Linked DNA regions of Homo sapiens: regions 1 and 2 are each linked to region 3. Evidence: fine-mapped expression QTL. A gene starts in region 3. Each other region holds a variant in brackets. All regions are shown on one strand. Distances are from middle to middle. Region 1 has its middle 12 kb from the start of NRBP2. Region 2 holds the start of PUF60 (poly(U) binding splicing factor 60). Region 3 holds the start of EPPK1 (epiplakin 1).

Evidence for each region.
Region 1: its variant is fine-mapped to the expression of EPPK1 in whole blood (TOPMed, PIP 0.97).
Region 2: its variant is fine-mapped to the expression of EPPK1 in whole blood (TOPMed, PIP 0.93).

What each region holds. Positions count from the first base shown.
Region 1 is chr8:143,851,166-143,855,318 of GRCh38, forward strand. No RefSeq gene overlaps it. Among named protein-coding and RNA genes, the nearest start is that of NRBP2, 12 kb to the left of the region's middle. The variant G/GTC (reference allele first, on the strand shown) is at 1,842.
Region 2 is chr8:143,828,926-143,833,064 of GRCh38, forward strand. PUF60 (poly(U) binding splicing factor 60) reads right to left here and starts at 390. Exons shown (of 12, transcript NM_078480.3): 1 at 355-390. The coding sequence starts at 378. It overlaps LOC107986985 (a long non-coding RNA gene), which reads left to right and starts at 355. Exons shown (of 3, transcript XR_001746138.2): 1 at 355-479; 2 at 921-1,113; 3 at 1,784-3,006. It also overlaps a transcript of NRBP2 not described here. RefSeq lists a silencer at 108-677 and enhancers at 462-1,161, 482-1,681. The variant C/T (reference allele first, on the strand shown) is at 2,193.
Region 3 is chr8:143,876,315-143,880,467 of GRCh38, forward strand. EPPK1 (epiplakin 1) reads right to left here and starts at 2,153. Exons shown (of 2, transcript NM_031308.4): 1 at 2,124-2,153. RefSeq lists a silencer at 2,207-2,296 and an enhancer at 2,863-3,505.

The DNA.
Region 1 (4,153 bases), 25 kb before region 3:
AAGTCTACTTTGAATATAAATCAGAATATAGGCCAGACGTGCCGGCTCATGTCTGTAATTCCAGCACTTTGGGAGGCTGAGGCAGGTGGATTGCTTGAGCTCAGGAGTTCAAGACCAGCCTAGGCAACATGGCGAAACCCCAGCTCTACAAAATCTGCTGGGCATTTGTCTTTGACTTTCTAGTCCTTAAAAAAAAATCAGCTGGGCATGGTGGCACACACCTGTAGTCCCAGCTACTTGGGAGGCTAAGGTGGAAGGATCGCTTGAGCCCAGGAGTTCGAGGCTGTAGTGAGCTGTTGTACCACTGCACTCCAACCTGCGTGACAGAGCGAGACCCCATCTCAAAAAAGAAAAAAACAAAAAAAAAGAAAAAAGAAAAATGTGAATCTGAATATTCACTCGTTTTTTCTTTTGGGATTCTTTCCATAACATTCCTAATTTTCTTGCCACTAGAAGGATGACTTGGGCTGATCGGGGAGAAAATCTCTTTTTCGGATAGGAAGAAAAAAGCCACACGAATGTTAAAACTAACAAAAACAACAGTGTGCTTCTCCTTTCTGTCATTCTTGTGGATGTTTTTCAAACACTTCCAGGATTTGAATTTTATTTGTACTCACAACTGCTGAGTGAGTTAAGTGTTATTATGATGACCTTTTTTTTTCTTTTTTCTTTTTTTTGAGACAGAGACTCTGTCGCCCAGTCTGGAGTGCAGTGGCGGGATCTCAGCTCACTGCAAGCTCCGCCTACCGGGTTCAAGTGATTCTCCTGCCTCAGCCTCCTGAGTAGCTGGGATTACAGGCACCTACCACACTCAGCTAATTTTTGTATTTTTAGTAGAGACAGGGATTCACCATGTTGGTCAGGTTGGTCTCGAACTCCTGACCTCATGATCCACCCGCCTCGGCCCCCCAAAGTGCTGGGATTACAGGCCTGAGCCACCGCGCCCAGCCATGATGACCATTTTACAAAAAGGGAAACTGAGGCACTGAGCCATGAAGTCACTTTCGGAAGAGCCCACAGTTATGAAAGAGCAGTGGTGGCACCAAGGGCAGGGGTTCCATCCCAGGACTTGCCATCTGGCCCTTTGTAGGAGCATCCTTTGTACTTAGAGATTGGAGAGAAATTTTGTCAAAAGATCCCAGGAGTCTCCAAATCTACCCTGGTTCTAAACGTGAGGCGCAAGTACCTGGAGCATGGTGACTGAGGGACTCCCCTGGAGTGTGTCTGCCTCCCGTCACCACCTGCCCCAGAGAGTGCCACGTGCGAGTCCCGCTGGGAGGCCCCTGCGTCCTGCTGCCCCGCGGCGCATGCTGCCCAGCGCCCCAGCCTCCTGCACCCAGGCCTCCTCCCAGTCTCCAGCCGGCTGCTGTCCATCCAGATGCCACTCCAGTGCAGCCAGTGGAGCAGGGCCAGGAGTGTAGGTGGCCTGACCATCCCCTTCCCCAGGGCTCTGAGAAAGGCTTCTCCTCCAGCAGTGTTTCTATCCGGGGGGCACAGGGCAGCAGTGACCAGCACAAGCTTGCGGGGCGAGGACACAGCTTGGAGTTGGGCGCTCGTGAGTTCCCACCCTTGCCTTGAGGACCTGGGCTTGTTACACCCCCAGGACTCCGGTTCTTCACCTGTAAAATCAGAAGAGCACTTCTGGAAACTTCTGGGCTGGCAGAGATGGAGCACAGCCACTACAGCTCCTCTCTCCCTTTGGACAGAATATAAAAAGCGACTCCTGGAGGACTGTGAAACGCTAACAGTAGCAGCTGGCTGGGGAGGAAACTCAAAACTTACCAACAACTGGCATGGAGGTTTACTGTTTTTGTTTTGTTTTGTTTTGTTTTTCCCCAGCT[G/GTC]TATGTGCGGCTTTGATCTGAGGATGGGGGTGTCTCACAACTGTGCCGTGGGTGCAAAGACCGACAACCCCAATACAAACCCGCCTTTCCCTCTGCAAATAAGAGTGCGTAGGAGAAACCCCCACTTCCCTCTCCTTTCTCTCCTAACCCTGTCCCGGCCTGCTCTTTGGTGGCATCACAGACCCCTGCGATCCTGCACGAGATTCCACCTGTATTGACAGAGGAGCTGGGCACAGGGCTCTGTGGTCCAGAGCGTGTGTGTGCAAGGTCCCTCTCTTATTTTCCCTGTCTTTTCTCTTGCTGTGTTGCCCCGAGCAGGGCCCAAGTCGTGTGAAATGGATGACAGCACAAGGAACTAAGACTCTGAGAAAAACCCTGGCTTTCTAAATGGACTCCTCCTAGGAGCCTGAGTGTATGGGAACCCCACAGAGCAGCGACCTGGAGGAGGGGCCTCCACGCTGAGCATGAAACAACACAAGCTCGGTGCTTGCCTGAGCTGAGCAGCACGTGTGGGGAACAGGCCGCACAGCAACAGCCTTGAGAATTGAGCCAACACGGATCCACTGCACACAGCGGCTGGGATACGGCTTGTGGCCTGACCCAGCCGGGATGAGTGCCCGCCAAAGTGAAAATGCCAACATTCTCAAGCGCGTTCTCGCAGGGCTCAGAGCCTCGCATCTGATTATTTAAAACATCCAGGATACAACCCCAAATTACCCAACATGCCAAGGACTGGAAATTGGATCCGGTCTCAGGGGAAAAGACAGACAGTTGCTGGCAGAACCCCAGGACTCAGATGCTGGAGGGACCAGGAAAAGATTTCACAGCAGCAATTCCAGCCCGATGCTCCCCGCGGCAAGAGTGGACACCCCAAGAATGAGTGAAAAGACAGACGTTCTCAGCAGGTGGAAATGGTAGAAGTGAAAAACATATTACCTGAAGTAAAAAATCACCTGAAGTAAAAAAGCTGGCCAGGCACAGTGGCTCATGCCTGTAACCCCAGCACTTTGGCAGGCCGAGGCGGGCAGATCGCTTGAGTCTAGGCGTTTGAGACCAGCCTGGGCAACATGGAGAAACCCTGTCTCTACTAAAAGTACAAAAATTAGCCAGGCATGGTGGCACACAGCTGTAGTCCCAGCTATTCAGGAGGCTGAGGCATGAGAATCACTTGAACCCAGGAGGCGGACTCCGCAGTGAGCTGAGATCACGCCCCACTGCACTCCAACCTGGGCAACAGAGTGAGACTCTGTCTCAAAGTAAAAAAAAAAAAAAGGCTTACTGAGTGTCTCAATAGCAAAAGGGGGATTACAGAGGAAGGAGTCAGTAAACTTACAAAGAGATCAATAGAAATTATCTAATCTGAAAAACAGGAGAAAAGATTTTTTAAAAAAATGAACAAAGCTTCAGAGAGCTGTGAAACAATATCAAAACATCTATCACTTTTGTATTTGAAGTTCCAGAAGGGGAATGGAAAGATATTAGTACATAAAACATTTATTTTGAAGAAATAATGGCAGAAAAGTTCTCTAATTTAGTGAAAGATATAAACTTATGAAAATCAAAAAGTTTGGCCAACTCCAGATGGGATAAACTCAAATCAAATATTTTATGTATTTATATGTGTAAAATTCCTCACCAGCAGACTTTATTTACTTTTTTTGAGAGGACACAGCTTGGAGTGGGCGCTCATGAGTTCCCACCCACGAGCCAAGGTGGACACTCACTCTGTTGCTCAGGCTGGAGTGCAATGGTGTGATCTTGGCTCACTGCAACCTCCACTTCTTGGGTTCGAGTGATTCTCCCACCTCATCCTCCCGTGATTATAAGCAACATCACGCCCAGCTAATTTTTGTATTTTTAGTAGAGACAGGGTCTTACCATGTTGGCCATACTGGTCTTGAACTCCTGACCTCAAGTGATCTGCCCGCCTTGGCCTCCCAAAGTGCTTCACCTGCCAACTTTAAAAGAAAATGCTAAAGAAAGGTATTTAGCCTGAAGGGAATGATACCAGAGGGAACCTGGAACTTCAGGAATGCAGAAAGAGCAATGGAAATGGTATATATTTAGAGAACCATAATATGCTGTTTTCACTTTTTAAATCATTAAAAATATCTGGTAGCTCACGCCTGTAACCCTAGCACTTTGGGAGGCTGAGGCGGGCGGATCACGAGGTCAGGAGATCGAGACCATCCTGGCTAACATGGTGAAACCCCGTGTCTACTAAAAATACAAAAAATTAGCCGGGCATGGTGGCAGGTGCCTGTAGTCCCAGCTACTCGGGAGGCTGAGGCAGGAGAATGGCGTGAACCCAG
Region 2 (4,139 bases), 47 kb before region 3:
TGACCACGGCGCACACCCCCGTCGGCAAAGGGAGGACGACGACCCCCGCTTGCCGGACCTAGCGGACAGGAACGCAACCCCGCCAGGCTCGCCCGCAAGGGCCACACGCCGCGCCCAGGCCCCCGCCCCGCCCCGCCGGAAGCTGGGGTCCGCAGGCCGGAAGCTGAGGCCGCGAGCCGGCCGCCGGCGCGCGCCCGCCCCGCCCCCGCCTCACGCGACCCGGGGACACGAGGGAGTCCGCGCGGGACCTGGGAAGACCGCCGCGTTCTTGGGAGGCCCTCCGCGCCCAGGCTGGGTCGACGACCCGGCCCCGCAAGCCGAGGGCCGCCCGCGCTCATGGGGGGGCTCACTTACGAGAGCTATGGTCGCCGTCGCCATCTTGCGTCCGTCGCGGCCTCCGCGCGCGCCTCCCACTCTTGCTCCTTCCGCTGTCTCGCGCGATCTGGGTGCCGGTGCACGGAACTCTCGCGAGGAAGGAGGTAAGAACGCGCTTCCGGGGCGGGGAGGAACGGTAAACGCCCCCGGGAGGGGCGACGGAAGGGGCGTGCTCTTGGCCGGGCGAGGGGCGTGGCCCGCGCACCTCGGGCGTCTAGGGGCGTGCGCCGCGGGACTCGAGTCGGGCGTATCTCTCCGCGTGGCCGACGCGGGCGTGCGTAGTACCCTTCGCCGCCCGTCGCCCTTGCGGCCACTGCTACGCTTCTCTTCTCTGCCTTTTTTGGAGAAAACGCTGTCGCGTGCGTCGTCCAGAGGCTCTCCCCCAGGAGGCAGGCGAAAGAGCGGGGCCCTCCTGGGCTGGAGGAGTCTCGGGTGATGAAAGGCCCGCGTGTTTCAGGCTGACGTCGTGAGATGCGTCGTCCCCGCGTCGCGACATCCCTGGGACCGGGAGGCCCCGTTCAATTGGCAGCTTTTTCTCCTTCCAGGGAACCGATGACCCTAGGTTGGCTGACATCAGTCGCTAGACCCGCAGCCCGCAGGCCCCGTTAGTCCCTGAACTGGCTTTCATGGCCCAAGGTGTCTGTCAGTACTGCTGGGAAAGCTGCCTGTCCTGGACATTTGCCATCTGCTGCACCCAGTCCCGAGACCCCAACTCGGTCATCCGAAGAAGCCACATCTGTAAGCTCAGGCACCTTCAGCTGCCTAAGGCCACAAGGCATCCCGGGCAGGCCTCCTTTCAACCCTGGGAACATTTAGAATTTAATACAGACACTTCTACTTAAATAGGGCAGAATATTCCCCGCCTCCCTCCTGAAACCTTCCAAAATTATAGGAAAGGGGTTTTATAAAGACAAACCCTGCAAGGGCAAAGAGCTGGGATATTGCAGAGCTTAAGAAAGGTGGACAGCGAGAGCTACTCCAGCCCACTTGGCTATGGAGGCCAGTGTCTGAGGGTCGTGGGTGAAAGCACAGCTACAGAAAGGAAACCCCAGACCTCTGTCCCTACCCACCGGGGCTGGCAGGCACTGCAGTGTCTGAGACGTGAGCTCCAGGAGAGGAGCTCTGAGGCCCTGCTCAAGCAAGGCCCTGTCTGAAAGCCTGGGAGTAAGTGAGACTCTGGGTCCTACCCCTGCCTCCACCCCTGGGCTGGGTCTGACCACCCGCATGCCATCAGGCTTCTCAGAGAAGAGGGCTCCTCTCTGCAGCAGCTCCTAGCTCAAAAGAAAAGACTGGCAGGGCACCTAGGGGTAGAGTGTTGCCCAGTAGAATGGCCCAGCCAGATCCCTGGCCTCGAAGCTCACCAGGTCATAAGCCCCAGCCACTAAAAGCATCTCACTCTTCAATGCAGCTGGACAGCCCAGGATCACCAGACACCTGAGAAAGAAGAAAAGGGACTCAGAAGAAACAGAGACGATAAAGGAAGCCGAAGAAAAATGAAAACTAAAATGCCATTCTCAGTCAATAAAAAGGAACTGGGGGCTATAGAGAAAGAAACCTCGGGATGAGAAAGAGCTCTTAGAAATAAAACATGAGGGGAAAGTGAGCAATTCAATAGGCTTTTAAGATGAAGTCTTCCAGAATGTATAATGACAGAACCAGATAGCTGGAAAACAGAATAGCAGTAACACAGGTGGGTGCTCTTAGGGCTAGCCTGGCACACAAGGCCTCCACAATGGAGGGGGTGGATGGGAGGTGGGGGGCTGGTCTGCCACCACCACCAGGGGAAGCCACAGGCACCACCCTCTGGGGACAGCTTC[C/T]CTTGGCAATAATGTGCACGCAGGATGCATGGTGCCCAGGACTGTTCTTACACACATTCATTCATGGGATCCTCACAACCCAGTGCTATGCAATGGATACAGCTGTTACCCCATTTTTACTGATGGGCAACATCACAAGGCAGGGAGCAGCAGTAGAATGGCTCCAGAGCCTGTGTTCTTGCCACCACCATGACTGCATCTCAAAAGAGAAGTCCAGGTCAGGCACAGTGGCTCATGCCTGCCTTCCCAGCACTTCAGGAGGCTGAGGCAGGAGTATCACTTGGGCCCAGGGGTTCAAGACCAGCTTGGGCAATATAGTGAGGCCACGTCTCTACAAAAAGTAATTTTAAAAAACCAGCTGGGCATGGTGGCACACGCCTGTAGTCCTAGCTACTAGAGAGGCTAAGGTGGGAGGATTGCTGGAGCCCAGAAGGTGGAGGTTGCAGTGCCCTGTGATCACACCACTGCACTCCAGCCTGGGTGACAGAGCCAGACCCTGTCTCAAAAAAACAACAAAAACTCAACAGAAGTCCAACATCTAAATAAATTGTCCAGAAAATAAGGAAATGAGAGAAATCAGCAGAGATAAATCAAGAAAATTTCCTAGAACCAAACAGTCATGTTTTCTGAACAATGGGTGAAAGGGAAGTTGTATATCAAGACACATCATTGAGAATTACCCAAGTAATGGGGCAAAGAAAAAGAAGAGATCATAGGTAAAGAGTCAGAATTCAGGAAGGCACAAGAGTTCTTGGAACTAGAAGAAAATGACACAATACCCTTGAAATCCTGGGAATAAATGATTTTCAACCAAGCCAAGCTTTTTGTAGCTAGTCGCACTGTTAAGCATATGTGAGGTTAGCATAAAGACTGTGGGGAAAAGCAAGAGAGATCAGATTGTTACTGTGTCTGTGTAGAAAGTAGTAGACATAGGAGACTCCATTTTGTTTTGTACTAAGGAAAATTCTTCTGCCTTGAGACTCTGTTAATCTATGACCTTACCCCCAACCCCGTGCTCTCTGAAACATGTGCTGTGTCAACTCAGAGTTGAATGGATTAAGGGCGGTGCAAGATGTGCTTTGTTAAACAGATGCTTGAAGGCAGCATGCTCCTTAAGAGTCATCACCACTCCCTAATCTCAAGTACCCAGGGACACAAAAACTGCGGAAGGCCGCAGGGACCTCTGCCTAGGAAAGCCAGGTATTGTCCAAGGTTTCTCCCCATGTGATAGTCTGAAATATGGCCTCGTGGGATGGGAAAGACCTGACCGTCCCCCAGCCCGACACCCGTAAAGGGTCTGTGCTGAGGAGGATTAGTAAAAGAGGAAGGAATGCCTCTTGCAGTTGAGACAAGAGGAAGGCATCTGTCTCCTGCCCGTCCCTGGGCAATGGAATGTCTCCATATAAAACCTGATTGCATGCTCCATCTACTGAGATAGGGAAAAACCGCCTTAGGGCTGGAGGTGGGACCTGCGGGCAGCAATACTGCTTTGTAAAGCATTGAGATGTTTATGTGTATGCATATCTAAAAGCACAGCACTTAATCGTTTACATTGTCTATGATGCAAAGACCTTTGTTCACGTGTTTGTCTGCTGACCCTCTCCCCACTATTGTCTTGTGACCCTGACACATCCCCCTCTTCGAGAAACACCCACAAATGATCAATAAATACTAAGGGAACTCAGAGGCTGGCGGGATCCTCCATATGCTGAACGCTGGTTCCCCGGGTCCCCTTATTTCTTTCTCTATACTTTTGTCTCTGTGTCTTTTTCTTTCCTAAGTCTCTTGTTCCACCTTACGAGAAACACCCACAGGTGTGGAGGGGCAACCCACCCCTACAAAGACAAACAGGTAAAGACTCCACAACTTCCTATGCACCCTCTCAGGAAACCTGGAGGATGGTCCTTCTCAAACAGGGCAAATGAAGGAAGAGGAAAGCAGTACAGG
Region 3 (4,153 bases):
AGGCGCGCCCGGGTTGAGGGCATCCAGTCTGGAGGACGGGGAGGCAGCCCCAGGGGCCAGGTCCACCCTGCAAAACTTGTTTCTGCACTTCCCCAGGAAGAGGCCAGGCTCAAGGGCACAGCCTGACCGGGGTGGCTACGGGGCTGTCCAGATCTGCTTCTGGGGGGTACATGAGACGGCAGGACAGGCCAGCTTCTCCTTCGTCCACCTGCTTCCTCCTCCCTTCCCTTCCTGAGGCCATCCTGAGACCACTCCCGGTTACCCCTGCCTCAGACAGACTCTGCTTCTGGGAACCCAGCCTGGGCGCTTTTGTGTCCACCTCTACTGGCACCTGCCTCCCCTAGGGCTGGGCCCTCTCCAGCACGCCTCGTTCCAGGACCCTCCAGGATCTGTGAGCCTAAGGCAGCCACTCACTATGGCATCCAGGCCAGACGAGGGGCTTCTAGGGGGTCAGGGCCCTGCCCTGTCCCCTGACATCCGGCCAGGGATGGCGGTGAGGAAATGAGAGGAGCACCTGATTTCCCAGCAAGGGGGAGGGGCAGTGCGGGCCAGGGTGGGGCAGGGCCAGCGAGGGCGGGGCAGGGCCAGTGAGGGTGGGGACAGCACCTTGGGCGGGCCCCTGACCTGCGCACAGGCCGCCAGCCCAGACAGGCCGCGTGCTAAGCGGGCCTCGTAAGCTCAGGCAAGTGGCTCAAGTTCCCCAAACAAAGAGGAGATCCAGGGAGGAAGGCTGGAGACAGGGCGCTTGGGAGCAGGGAGTCGGGGGCAGGCTTGCCCTGCGTGTGTGAGTGTGCCTGCCAGTGCATGCCCCGCACCATGCGTGAGATGCGGCCTGTGGCTGGCTGCACCACTCCCTATCTCTTCCTGACCTTGGGCCTGGTATGAACCCCTCTGGGCCCTGCCCCTTCCCTGGGCCCTGCCCCTTCCCAGGCTTGGCAGGAGGAAGGCCCGGGAGTGGGTGTCTTGACTCCATGTGGGGCCTGGGAGGGCAGCTGGACAGAGGGTCCGGAGCGAGGGGGGGCAGGGGGTGCAGCTTCGAGTGTGGGGGCATCTGGAGGAGGTGGCTGCTGCCTAGGAGAGCACGGGGTCAGGGTTAGGGTGATGGGGTGGGGAGGAGGCCGAGCAGATTTCCCCGGAGCCTGAGGCACAAAGGGCCCCTCCTGTGGATTCCCCACTTCAGGTGGCCCCCAGGCCCCAAGTGGTGGAGGGCCGTTCCTGAGGAGGGTGGGTCTGCATCTCTTGGGTGAGGTCACTGTCTGTCACCAGACTGCCCGGCAGGCCCCCACCGCAGCCTGGGACAAAGGTTGGGGAGGCTGCAGCCGCCTGCCTGAGTCAGGTCAGGACAGACCCTGGCAGCTGCCTGGGCCCACACAGGAGGCAGCAGCCTTAGCTTCTGCCCGGCTGTGTGCCCTTGTGGGAAGACCCCACCCACCTGCAACCTGCACCATGATCAGAGATCAGTGGCCCCAATAACAAGCTTGGCACAGTGCAGCGGGGGCCCAGGGCAGGGAAGCAGAGCCCTGGGCCCAAGTGATGAACAGGGCCCTTCCTGCCTCTGCCTCCCACGGGTCTCCAGGCGACCGTGTGACCGCTTACCTGACCCGGAGTGGCCACCCCTGGGACCGCTCACCCAACAGCAGGCAGCTTCCCCGGATCCGTGACGCCTCCCTCCCGGCAATGTTGCCAGGAGTCACCCCTCTCAATTTGTCGGCCTAGCTGCCTCCTGGCCTGGGCGTTCCCCACCCTGCAGAGCGTGCCCCGGGCGGTCCTCGCTGCAGGGAAAACCGCTGGGCCTGCGAGACCCCCGCCCCTGGCCGCCTCTCCCGTGAGGGCTCGGGGCCGGCGCCTCCTCTTCACCGGCGCCCGGGACTCAGGGGCGCCACTTCGGACTCGGAGCTCAAATTGCCCAGGGCGGGAAACCTGCCCGGCCAGAGCCCAAGACCCCGCTGGCCGCCGCGCCCCTACCCTGGCCTCGGCGTGCGGCTCCAGCGGGGATCCGGTTTCCTTCGGCGGCCGCCGCCCCGCCCGGCCCCGAGCCCGCACCCGCACCCGCCGCACCTGCCCGCACCCGCCGCACCTGCCCGCACCCGCCGCACCCGCCGCACCCGCCGCACCCGCCGCACCTGCCCGCTCGCCGCTCGGTCCGCAGTGTCTCCGCGCGCCCGCTCCGCCCGCATTTCAAGCCCCACAGGCCCCGCCCCCGTCTAGGGCGGCGCCCAGGTCGGGGCCCCGACGCGGGGCGGGGCGGGGCGGGCAGGTGCCGGAAACCCCGCGCGGCCCGGGCCTGGCGCTTGCACCCCGGGCAAGGGGCGGCGGCTGGGCAGCCGGGACCCTCCCCTCGTCCCCAGCAGGGAGTCACCGCGAAGGAACGCAGGGCGGGCGCGGAGGCGTCCTGTGCCCTTCAGAACAGCTTTTTTTTTTTGGGAAAGGAGTTTGGAGTGAAACGCGGACCGGCCAGAGCGGCGGTTTCTATCCCCACAAGCCACTAATGCGGTGCGGGCTGGTGTCCCTGCCTCCAGCCCCGACCCCACCTTGTCTGCTCAGCTTCCTGGGGACGCTGCTTCACGTCGTGTGTCTGCTGGGTCCAGGGGTCTTCAAGGCTCTCCTTGGCAGGCCCCCCTGCCCCCATGACGTTGTAAGAGCTGGGATGTCCTGCCTGGAGCAGTGCCAGGCCTCACCCCCCGGTCTGGCTCCTCCACCTGGGCACAGAGAATGTTCCCTGTCACCCTGGGAGTACCTGGTCCCCTCTCTGAAGCCCATCCTGGCACCCACCTTCCAAGGCTGGGGCATGCCAGAGACACTGGGCATGGAGGCTCACAGCCTCGGGGGCTGGCCTGGGGGCAGCCTCAGCCTGGCACGGGAACCTTCCATGGATCTTCTGGAGGGCCCTCCCCTTGGCTGCCCCGATATCCCAGGTGGGCAGGGCCACGGAAGTACAGGGCCCAAAGCCCCTCCTCCTCTGTCCCCAAGGCCCCTCCTCCTCTGTCCCGTAGTCCTGGAGGTCCTGAGGGCTCAGGTGCTCCCCACCCCCACAAGTGCCCCCTTCTCCCAAGCTCCAGCCCCCACCTCTGCCTGAGTCATTCTTGACCAGAAAATCATCCAGAGCCAGCCAGCCACCTCCAATGCACACCATGAGGGTAATTGCAGGCGCCCACGCAGGTGCAGGAGGGACAGGTTAGGCCTTCAGGGGTTAGGGTGCTTGGGACCACTGCCCTGGCTCTGCTCTCACCCACCCACCAGGTCCACACTCACACCTGCTCACCCAGGCTGCCTGGACCCTGTCCACACCTGCCACACTGGCCGCACAGCATGGCTGCTGCCGACTGCGGGGCCCTGACCCCAGAGGAGCTCTGGTGGAACCCGCATTTCCCCAAGGCACTGCCAGGCCAACCGCATCCATCCCCAGCCCTGCTCACCGGATGCCTGGACACTGTCTGTGTGGTCTTGCTGGGAGGCATGGTGGTGCTGGCTATGGCCTGTGGCCTGGAGCACACCCCAGAGCCACTTCTTCCTGCGGTGAGCCATTGCAGGCAGCGCCCCTGCCAGGCCACAAAACCTGGGTGTATGCCAGCCCCTCGCTGCAAGAAGGGGGTGTTAGGCTGGCCAGACCAAGCCTTCTTGTGTGCCCAGGGACGGGCCACATGCCTGTCTGCTCCTCACCCCTCCGGTATAGGCAGGTGGCACAGAGCTGGCCCTGCTCCGCTGCACCCATTTCTGCCCGTCACCCCTCCAGTATAGGCAGGTGGCACGGAGCTGGCCCTGCTCCGCTGCACCCATTTCTGCCCGTCACCCCCCTGGTATAGGCAGGTGGCATGGAGCTGGCCCTGCTCTGCTGCACCCACTGGCATCTGTCCCCTGGCTCCTCTCCCTCGGCTTTGTCTTCCTGTGACTCCAGATCCCCTGCCCTGTGGTGGCCCCCAGCCCAGTGACCTCTGGGGACACCTCTGGGGGCAGACTTGGGTGCCTGCCCTACTCCCCAGGTCCCTGGGCCACTCCCAGTCAGGGCTTCTGGGAGCCACCACCTCCCCAGGGGCTCCAGTCCAGTGCTTCAGCCCAGCAGTCCCCGGAGCCACAGGCCACTCCTCCAGCCCCCAGGCCTGGGCCTATACCACCTACACAGCAAGGAAGGGCATCAGGGAGGGTGTCAGGAGGT